Regions from separate parts of the Homo sapiens genome. Here region 2 is linked to region 1. Evidence: fine-mapped expression QTL. A gene starts in region 1. The other region holds a variant in brackets. All regions are shown on one strand. Distances are from middle to middle.

Region 1 (4,452 bases):
AGATCTGACGGTTTTATAAAGGGGAGCTCCCTGCACACGCTCTCTTGCCTGCCGCCGTGTAAGACGTCCCTTCGCTTTTCCTTTGTCTCCTGCCATGATTGCGAGTCCATTAAACCTCTTTTTCTTTATAAATTACCCAGTCTCGGGTATGTCTTTATTAGCAGCATGAGAATAGACTAATATGCTCTGGAAGATATTATCTTACTCCAGACATTATTTTAGATCTTTGCCAATTTGACCCGTGGCAAACAGCACTCCAGCATAGCTTTAATTTCCACTGCTCTTGTTCTGATTGGGGCTGAGCATCTATTCGCCTGTATAGGAGCATTTGTATTTTCTTTGCTCTGAACTGTGTTTATATTCTACGCCCACTTTTCTTTTCTTTTTTTAAGAGATGGGGTCTCACTCTGCTGCCCAGGCTGGAGTGCAGTGGTGCAATCATAGTTCACTGCAGCCTCCAACTCCTGGGCTCAAGGGATTCTCTCACCCCAGCCTCCTGAGTAGCTGGGATTACAGGTGGGTGCCACTATTTCCAAACCACTTTTCTTTGGTGATCTAGATTTCATTTGCATTTGCAGAATATCTGTATATTAAGGAATTTAACCTTTATGTGGGATACAGCCAGGAAAAACTTTTTTCCCCATTTGTCTTTTCACTTTGACATGCATAAACTTTAAATTCTCAGGTAGTCACCTTTATCAAGTCCCATTTTCTTTTACCTGGGCAGTAACCTAATGGGATTTTCTACTTCCAGCCTTCCTGCCACCTCCTCCAAATCTATTACCAACAGTGATTCTTGGTGGTTGTGGTGCCTCATGCCTGTAATCCCAGAACTTTGGGAGGCCAAGGTAGGAGGATCACTTAAGGCCAGGAGTTGGAGACCAGCCTGTGTAACAAGACAATACCCTGTCTCTACAAAATTACCAAAAAAAAAAAAAAAGTTAGCTTGGTGTAGTGGCACACTTCTGTAGTCCCAGCTACTTGGGAGGCTGAGGCGTGAGAATCACTCGAGCACAAGAGTTCGAGGATACAGTGAGCCATAATCACGCCACTGTTGTCCAGCCTGGGCGAAAGAGACCCCCTTTTTTTTTTTTTTAAATAAGAACAGTGATTCTTTTCAAGCACAATTCAGATTCCAGTTCCTTCTCTGCTGACCATGCCAGTAGTCTCCATCCCACTCCCAGAATAGCCCAAAAGTCCCTCCACCCCTCACACTTAAAACTTTCCCACGAGATCACAGGGTTCTTTCTCACTGCACTGAGACGTGCTCCTGCCTCCTGCCCCTGCCTCGGGCTTTGCCCCAGCCATTCCTCTCCTGAATTCTCGTCCACTCTTCCTTTTGGTGCTTTAAGACGCTCCTTATCCTAGAGACCTATGTGAGCAGCGCCCCCACGTCACTCCCAGGTTTCCCGACAGCATTTCAGCATTTACCACCGACCTTGGCGCATCCGCACCTGCGGATTGATCTGAGGATTCCCCCCCAACTTCCAGCACTTGGCTCTCAGCTGCAGCCACGCCTGCCGGGCCTGCTGCAGGCGCTCAGGGTATTACTTAAGTCAATGATTGCAGGTTCTCGCATCCTATTTAAAACCTTTTCCACTAAGAGATTTAAAACACGTGTCCCCTGCTTTGAACTTTCACGTTACATTTCTTACGTGTAAACCTAGGAAGCCTTTGGAGATAACCCCGGTCTCTGGAGAGGCTTGGATAGACCTCGGAGCCCAGACCGCCCGGGAATTGCCGTGCCCGGCTCCTCCCGACCCCGGCACGGATGCCTCGGCGGAGAAGTTGAGCCAGGCAGAAGCGAGAGAGTCCAAACCTCTGTTTGCCCCGCCACGCCCGCCCGAGGGCCCCACGTGGGCCCCAGGCGCAGGCGCGTTCAGTTCAGGGCCAGACGCGCGGAGACCTGGGAGCTGGCGGGGCGGGGCCGGACTGGGCGCGGGGAGACCTGGGAGCCGGCGGGGCGTGGGCGTGGCGGGGCCGGGCGCAGGGGCGGGGGCGGGGCAACCGAGGGCGCGCGCGAGCCCCAACGGCCGTCGCCGCAGCGCGGGAAGACGCGCCACAGATGCCCCGCCCGCGTGGGTTTGAACAAGAGGCCCCGCCCCCGGCCCGCGAGTGGCCAATCAGCGGGCGTAGCGCGCGGAGAGCGCAGCGTCGACCCTTTGTGGACGCCGAGTGGCGGTCGCTCGCCCCGCCCCGCGCCGTCGGGCGCTCCTTCCTCAGCGGCGGGAAGCTGGCGGCAGCGGCGGTGGCGGTGGCTGAGCAGAGGACCCGGCGGGCGGCCTCGCGGGTCAGGTGAGCGGGCCCGGCGGACCGCTAGGGCGTCTACGGCGGCGTGCACTTTTGTGCTGCAGGGCGCGGAGGAGCCTGGGGGCGGTGCGCGGAGTCTGTGGCTCCTGGCGCTGGGTCCGGGGCGGAGGCGGCGCCCGGGACCACCGCTGGGGCTGCCGCGGCGCCCTCGCCGCCCTCCTGGGCGCTGGTTCCCCCGCGGGGTGGCCGCTGCTGAGGGGGCCCGGGGAACAGAGGGGCCCGGGCCGCCGTCTGCGTTCCTTGCGGAGCGCGGAGCTGGGGCTTTGCCGAGGCCTGCGGGCGGCCCCACGCGGGAGCCGCTTCACGAGGGCCCGGCTGGGGTACGCAGCGGCGTTTCCCGTACCTCGGCTCTAGTTGCAGCGGAGGGAACGCCAGGCGCGCCGCAGCCCCCTCTGTCGGAGCCCGGCCGCGGAGAGGGCCGCGGATGTGGGAGGAGGCCCAGACCCCGGGCGGGTCGGCCAGCGCCGTCTTCCCTGGGCTCCTCCGGCGGTGCGAGGTGGGACTAGGGAAAGTCCCCGAGACACTTGCAGAAGTCAGACGCAAGCCTCCCTCCGCGTCTTCAGACGCTTCTCGCCCCGCAAACAGGATCGTCGTGGCAAAGGCTCCGACAGCTTGCTGGAATAGAGGGTCTCCGCTGCCTCGCTTCTCCTGTGGCCTTCGTGTGGGACGCACGGGACGGCGGGACCCAGATAACCGTTCTCTCAAAGCGAGCCACAGAAAAACATTGCCTGTTCACAAAACTTACGTTTTATCAACTTTCTACGTACAACCACTCTATTTTCAAGTGTCACCGTGTTTTATAATTAGGGTGGAAATCCAGAATACAAAGTGAGTTACACCCCTTTTCTAGGAAGAGTAGTAGGCTGTATCTTGGAAAAGGGGCTAGGAAGTTTCCCTCAACTTGCCACTGGAACATGTTTTCAGGGAAAAGAAGGAGTGTGTTTCGTTCCAAGTAACAAAAGTACCTGCAATTGGCTGGGCGCGGTAGCTCACACCTCCCAGCACTTTGAGAGGAGGCCTAGGCGGGTGGATCTCCTGAGGTCCCGAGTTCGAGACTAGCTGGCCAACGTGGTGAAACCCCGTCTGTACTAAAAATACAAAAATTAGCTGGGCGTGATGGCGCATGCCTGTAATCATAATCCTAGCTATGTGGGAGGCTGAGGCAGGAGAATCGCTTGAACCAGAAAGGCAGAGGTCTCAGCCGAGATCGTGCCATTGCACTCCAGCCTGGGCGACAGAGCGAGACTCCGTCTCAAAAAACAAAAAAAACCAAATACCTGAAATTAACATAACAGTAATTGTTCATGAACAGCCTCCAGGAGACTTGTAGTGGAAGGTGGAGCTCCCACTCAGTACTCAAGACTGCAGACCTTGCTCCTCTTCTCCCTGTTTTTCCGATAAAGTATTTCAAAGCTTATCTGATGTGTGAGGAATGGAAATTGTTGATGATTTGCTTAAAAACCCGAAACTTTGAAGTGGCTGCAAGTCCAGCTGTGAAGGTGACAGGTTAGGTCAGAGTTGAGTCTGTCCCCAACCGTCCCAGCCCTACTGATCAGAATCTGGGAATCTGCGTTTTCAGCCAGCCTCGTGGTATTGCTCAGCCACGAAGGTGTGGCCACTGCTGCTGTAGTGAAGGACCAGTCCCCGAGCTGTACTCTGCTTGCCTGAGCAGCACTGCGGGGCTGCTCCCTGCTGGCCTCTGCCTCGGTGGGCCTAGGTTGCTCTGTCCCTAGTGGCCTGTTGGCTGTTCCACCTGCCATGTCGGACATGTCCTCAGTCCGTCTGGCCCTCTTCGTTTTTCTCTGTCTGGTCGGTGCTTGGTTTAGAAGCCTGAGGGCAGTGCTGGGAGTTGACTGAGGGCTTGGCTGTCCCGGTAACAACCTGTGGAGTTGGTGGGATTTTAGGCATTTAACTAGATGTGTAGAAAGAGCTTCAAAACTGAGCAGGGGGCCAGGCATGGTGGCTCACGCCTGTAATCCAGCACTTTGGGAGGCCGAGATGGGCGGATTGCCTGAGTTCAGGAGTTCGAGATCAGCCTGGCCAACATGGTGAAACCCCGTCTCTACAAAAAATACAAAAATTAGCCGGGTGTGGTGGCGCGTGCCTGTAGTCCTAGCTACTCGGGAGGCTGAGGTAGGAGAA
Region 2 (4,307 bases), 51 kb before region 1:
GGAGCATCCCCTGCCAGCCCAGAGCTTGAGACCACAGGGGAATAGCCCCTGCCCCGGGAGCATCGAGCAGCCCAGACTGCAGCCAAACCCCGCGCCAAGCAGAGAGGGCAAGAGAATGACAAGCATGGTCCTGGGGGGCCGTGGACGCATGGTCACCGCGGGAGCAGTGGCGGAGGTGGCTGTGAGTTGGACCCTGGCAGGGAGCAAGACCCAGAGGCTGGTGGAGGAAACAGGTAGAGGAAGGGGAGTTTATTAGGGGGGTGGTGGTGCCGGGGGCGTGGCAGGCTCCGAGGCCCAGCTGGACACAAGGACCCAGATTCGTCTGGCCAGGCCTGGGCAACCCAGCCTCGACCACACTAGGTATGGGCTGCCCAGAAGAGGAGCCACTCTGCCCAGGGTGGGCTGCAGAACCTGATGGGCCAGAGTCCTGTCCTGGGATTGTTCCAGAAATCAAGGCTGTAGCTTGAGACTGGGGGCTTCCCCAGGTCTTCCACCCTGAGGGGAGAGCAGCTGGCCGTGGACACCACCCTCAGGGAGCTGAGAGGCCAGAGGTGGAGAGAGGCTGGGGGCCGGCTCTGCAGCCCCCAGGCCCCCACTGCAGCCCCCAGGCCACCCTTGGCTGCCGGCTTAGGGCCCTTGGCTTGCTCAGCCTATCTTTAGCCACCATGGCCTCGTAGGGTGCCCTGCAGCCCCTTCTTGGCCCAGGCGAGCCCTGGAGCAGTTCTTCACTTGGACAGGTGCATGGTTTACGGTGAGGGATTCAGCTTGCCAGAACCCGCATGCCCCTTGGAAGCCCCTTTTTCTGCCCCCAGCAGCTCCACTCCCACCACCGCACCCACCCCAGCAGCTAGTCTAAAGCTCTCTGTCTCCAGGGATGCTCCCAGCCCCCCTCCAGCAGATGGCCTTTCTGGAAACACCCTTAGGCTGAGCCTCTGTCCACTCCACTGGTGTAACCAACAACAGGGAGCTCCCAAGGACCCCACAAAAAGGCAGACATTGTAAGGGGGAAACTGAGGCCCAAAGTGTCCGGCAGCTTGCCCAGATCCCACGGGCAGGGAGCAGGAGCCGGGATTGGGCTCATTCCTTCAGCTGGCAACCGTCCATTTGTAGGGGCAGAGGCGGCAGGGACATAGCCTCCTGCTTGGAGCTGGGAAGCGGGGGCGGTGAGGGGGACACAGAGGAAGACTACCCAGCTCCACCCAGGCCTGCCTGTGGGGGCACTTCCTGCGGGATGCGGGGACTCTGATGAGACCCAAAGGAGGAATGAGAAATGTGGGCAGAGCTGGAGCCGGCCAGGGATGGGATGATCCCACAGGTGTGAGAGCAAGGGAGTGCCCTGTCCGCACCTCTGCTTTCTGGTGTCCCCACCATACCTTTCTGTTACGTCCCTTCTCTCCTTCTGAGAGGCTGTCCCATCCCAGCTGCACACCATTCTCATTGAAGTGAAAAGGCTGCCTCCCGACCCCAGCTGCCCAGGGCAGTCATCCACACCCTGGCTCTGGGCCATCCGCCCCTCTCGTGGTTCCTACGGTCCGTGTCCTCTGTGGCACCTCAAGTGCCCCCTGCCTGCCCCAGGGACAGCCACTCACTGGGCTCAGAGCCCCCTGACACACACACAGCAGGGGGCTTCGAGAGTCCAGGGATGCCTCCTGGAGTCACGGCTCTGCCAAGCTCCCCAAAGTTGACTTGGTGGGGGAGCTGGCATCCTGACTACATGGCCGTGTTGACAGGACCAGCGAGCAGCCTCCTGG[T/C]ATCTGCTGTTAATCCTCATGACTGCTCTCAAACCTCTCAACTCTACTGAAGACACAGACACAGTCATGCCCACAGCTCCACAGAGAGTTCCTACCTAAACACCCGTGCAACCAGCACGTGATGAAGACACAGATATCACCAAGAACGGCTTGATGCCTCCTACAGAAGTGTCCATTGCATGTTGGAAGTTCCTGAGCTGAACAGCAAGGTTGTTTGCCATCTTCATCTCCCTAGGCAAGACTGCCCTGGAAGAGCGAGTGATGTGGATGGAGACAGGGAATACTGAGGTCTGCTGACGTCAGTCGATGGCGGCCATGTGGATGGACGGCGGGCATGTGGACGGACGGTCAGACATGTGGACGGACGGGCGGGCGTGTGGACGGGCGGGCGGGCGTGTGGACGGGCAGGCGGGCGTGTGGATGGACGGCGGGAGTGTGGATGGATGGTTTTGGTGGTTGACACCAATCCTGCGTGCAAAGGCTTGATGTGGGTTTTCCCGGGGTTCCCGTGGGGAGAAAATTCCTTCACAATGAACCAAATCCCGCTCCCACTGGGTGTTCCTCCTCCTCCTCCATCTTTTTCTCCTCTTTTGGCTCCTCTTATGACATCATAAGACATATATATTTGGTCTCTGTCCCCCATTACTGACACAGAGCTCCTAATCCCTTAGACTTGCCTAGGTGATGGGAGCATCTTTTGTTCCAATGAGGCAGCTCTTGCTGGGCTCCTGGGTAGCTCCAGGATGGGGGCTGGTCGCCAGCAAGACCAAGCCACGATGAGCAGCTTGACACTTCTGGCCTCACCCGCCATGCTCTGGGGAAGGGAGGGGCTGGAGACCAAGCCTGTGTGATGAAGCCTCCATGAAAAGTCAGAACAATGGGATTTGGAGAGCGTCTGGGTTGGTGCACGCGTGGAGGCTCTCGGAGGGAGGCGCCCGGAGAGGCCGTGGGAGCTCCACCCGCATCCCCATACCTTGCCCTGAGCATCTCTGCTGGCTGAGTTGTTTCCTTTAGTAATAAGCCAGAAGTGGCCGGGTGCGGTGGCTCACGCCTTTGGGAGGCCAAGGTGGACAGATCGCTTGAGTTCAGGGGTTCAAAATCAACCTGGGCAACATGGTGAGACCCTCTCTCTACAAAAAATACAAAAATTAGCTGGGCGTGGCGGCTCATGCCTGTAGTCCGAGCTACTTGGGAGGCTGGGGTGAGAGGATCGCTTGAGCCCAAGAGGCAGAGGTTGCAGTGAACCAAGATTGCACCACTGTGCTCCAGTCTGGGTGACAGAGGCAGACCTGTCTGCAAATGTAAAATAAAAATAGATATATATAATATAAAACATTCTGCTGAGAGAGAGCATGACAGAAAAAAAATTCAGTAGTAGGAAACAAACAGTTGTTCTAGTCTCTGTGAGCTGTTCTAGCAAATGACTGAACCCGAGGAGAGAGTCATCAGACCTCCCATTTGTCACAGCCAAGGCATTCAGAAGTAGTGGGTAACCTGGGGACCCACCCCTCCATGACTGGTGTCTGAAGTCAGGGCAGTCACGGGTGACTGAGCCCTTAACCTAACCCCAGAAGTGAAGTGCCAGAGGCGTTGTGAGTTACAGTATGGAAGAAAAGCTTTCTCTCATACGCCCAGCTTCTCTGGCCTCGGGGCTCCACCTCCTTCTTCCCAGTTCAACATCCCCTGACCCTTTTCTCATTTGGGGTAATTGAGTCCCTGGGCTTGGCCAGCGTGCCCCTCGCTCAGCTGCCAGGGACCTGCCCTTGCTGGGTGGAAGAAAAGCTGGTGACAGTGTGTGCCATTGCAGCACACATCGCCGACTCCGCGCCCCCTTCCTGATTAGGAGAACACCCAGCATCAGCTGGCGCAGTGACATCAAAGACTACGTTTCCTAGCCTCCCTCGCTGCCAGATGTGGTCACAAGACTACGTTGGGCCCAGGAAAGAGGGAAGATGGAGCAGGCGAACTGGGTGGGAATTCCGGGAATTCTCCACACAGGGGACGGGCCGTGCCCTGCTCTCCTTCGCTCCTTCCTCATTCCTGGAACACAGATGTGAAGGCTGGAGATCAAGTTGCCATCTGGGACCATGAGGTAAGGCTGGGGGCTTCCCATGGCTGTGGAGGCTGTCGTGCCAGCCCTGAGAAAGAGGAAACTCTGTGGATTAGGTGGGTTAGGCATGGTCGTCTGGGTTTTCTGGGGTCACAGGCAGCCTCTCCCTGGCCTCACTAGGACACACTATGACTGTTGAAACCATGACTCATGATTCACATTGGGGGTATGCCCTGGTCAAAGGAACATGCGCTGGCAACAAGGAGTTTCAGAATGATCCAGTTCTTGGGTTGACACTTCTCAAAAGCCCCTATCTTCCCCTGCCTCTTCTGTCTCGGGGAGGCTGTCTTCAAAATTTCCCTAAAAACCCCTTCCCTGGCTGAGACCTGGGGCCTCTTGCCTTCTTACCAGAGCAGCTGTCCCCCAACAGAAACCTCAGGACACTTCCGCCTTTCCTCTTCCCACTTGGCCTGTCATCCGGTCCCCACCCCCTGCTTGCATCACTA

Direction of the effects. Positions count from the first base shown, and alleles are read on the strand shown. Sizes are in standard deviations (SD) of each study's normalised expression.
With allele T in place of C in region 2, the expression in thyroid of the gene that starts at base 2,211 in region 1 is lower (small effect, 0.33 SD a copy in GTEx).

What was found. PIP is the estimated chance that this variant, and not a neighbour inherited with it, causes the effect.
Region 2: its variant is the best candidate, but not a certain one, in a credible set for the expression of CDCA4 in thyroid (GTEx, PIP 0.63).

What each region holds. Positions count from the first base shown.
Region 1 is chr14:105,018,842-105,023,293 of GRCh38, reverse strand. CDCA4 (cell division cycle associated 4) reads left to right here and starts at 2,211. Exons shown (of 2, transcript NM_017955.4): 1 at 2,211-2,295. RefSeq lists enhancers at 1,416-1,475, 1,491-2,004, 2,519-3,034, 3,486-4,146 and silencers at 1,776-1,845, 1,876-2,765, 2,776-2,865.
Region 2 is chr14:105,069,951-105,074,257 of GRCh38, reverse strand. No RefSeq gene overlaps it. Among named protein-coding and RNA genes, the nearest start is that of GPR132, 6.7 kb to the right of the region's middle. RefSeq lists enhancers at 3,962-4,241, 3,301-4,307. The variant T/C (reference allele first, on the strand shown) is at 1,752.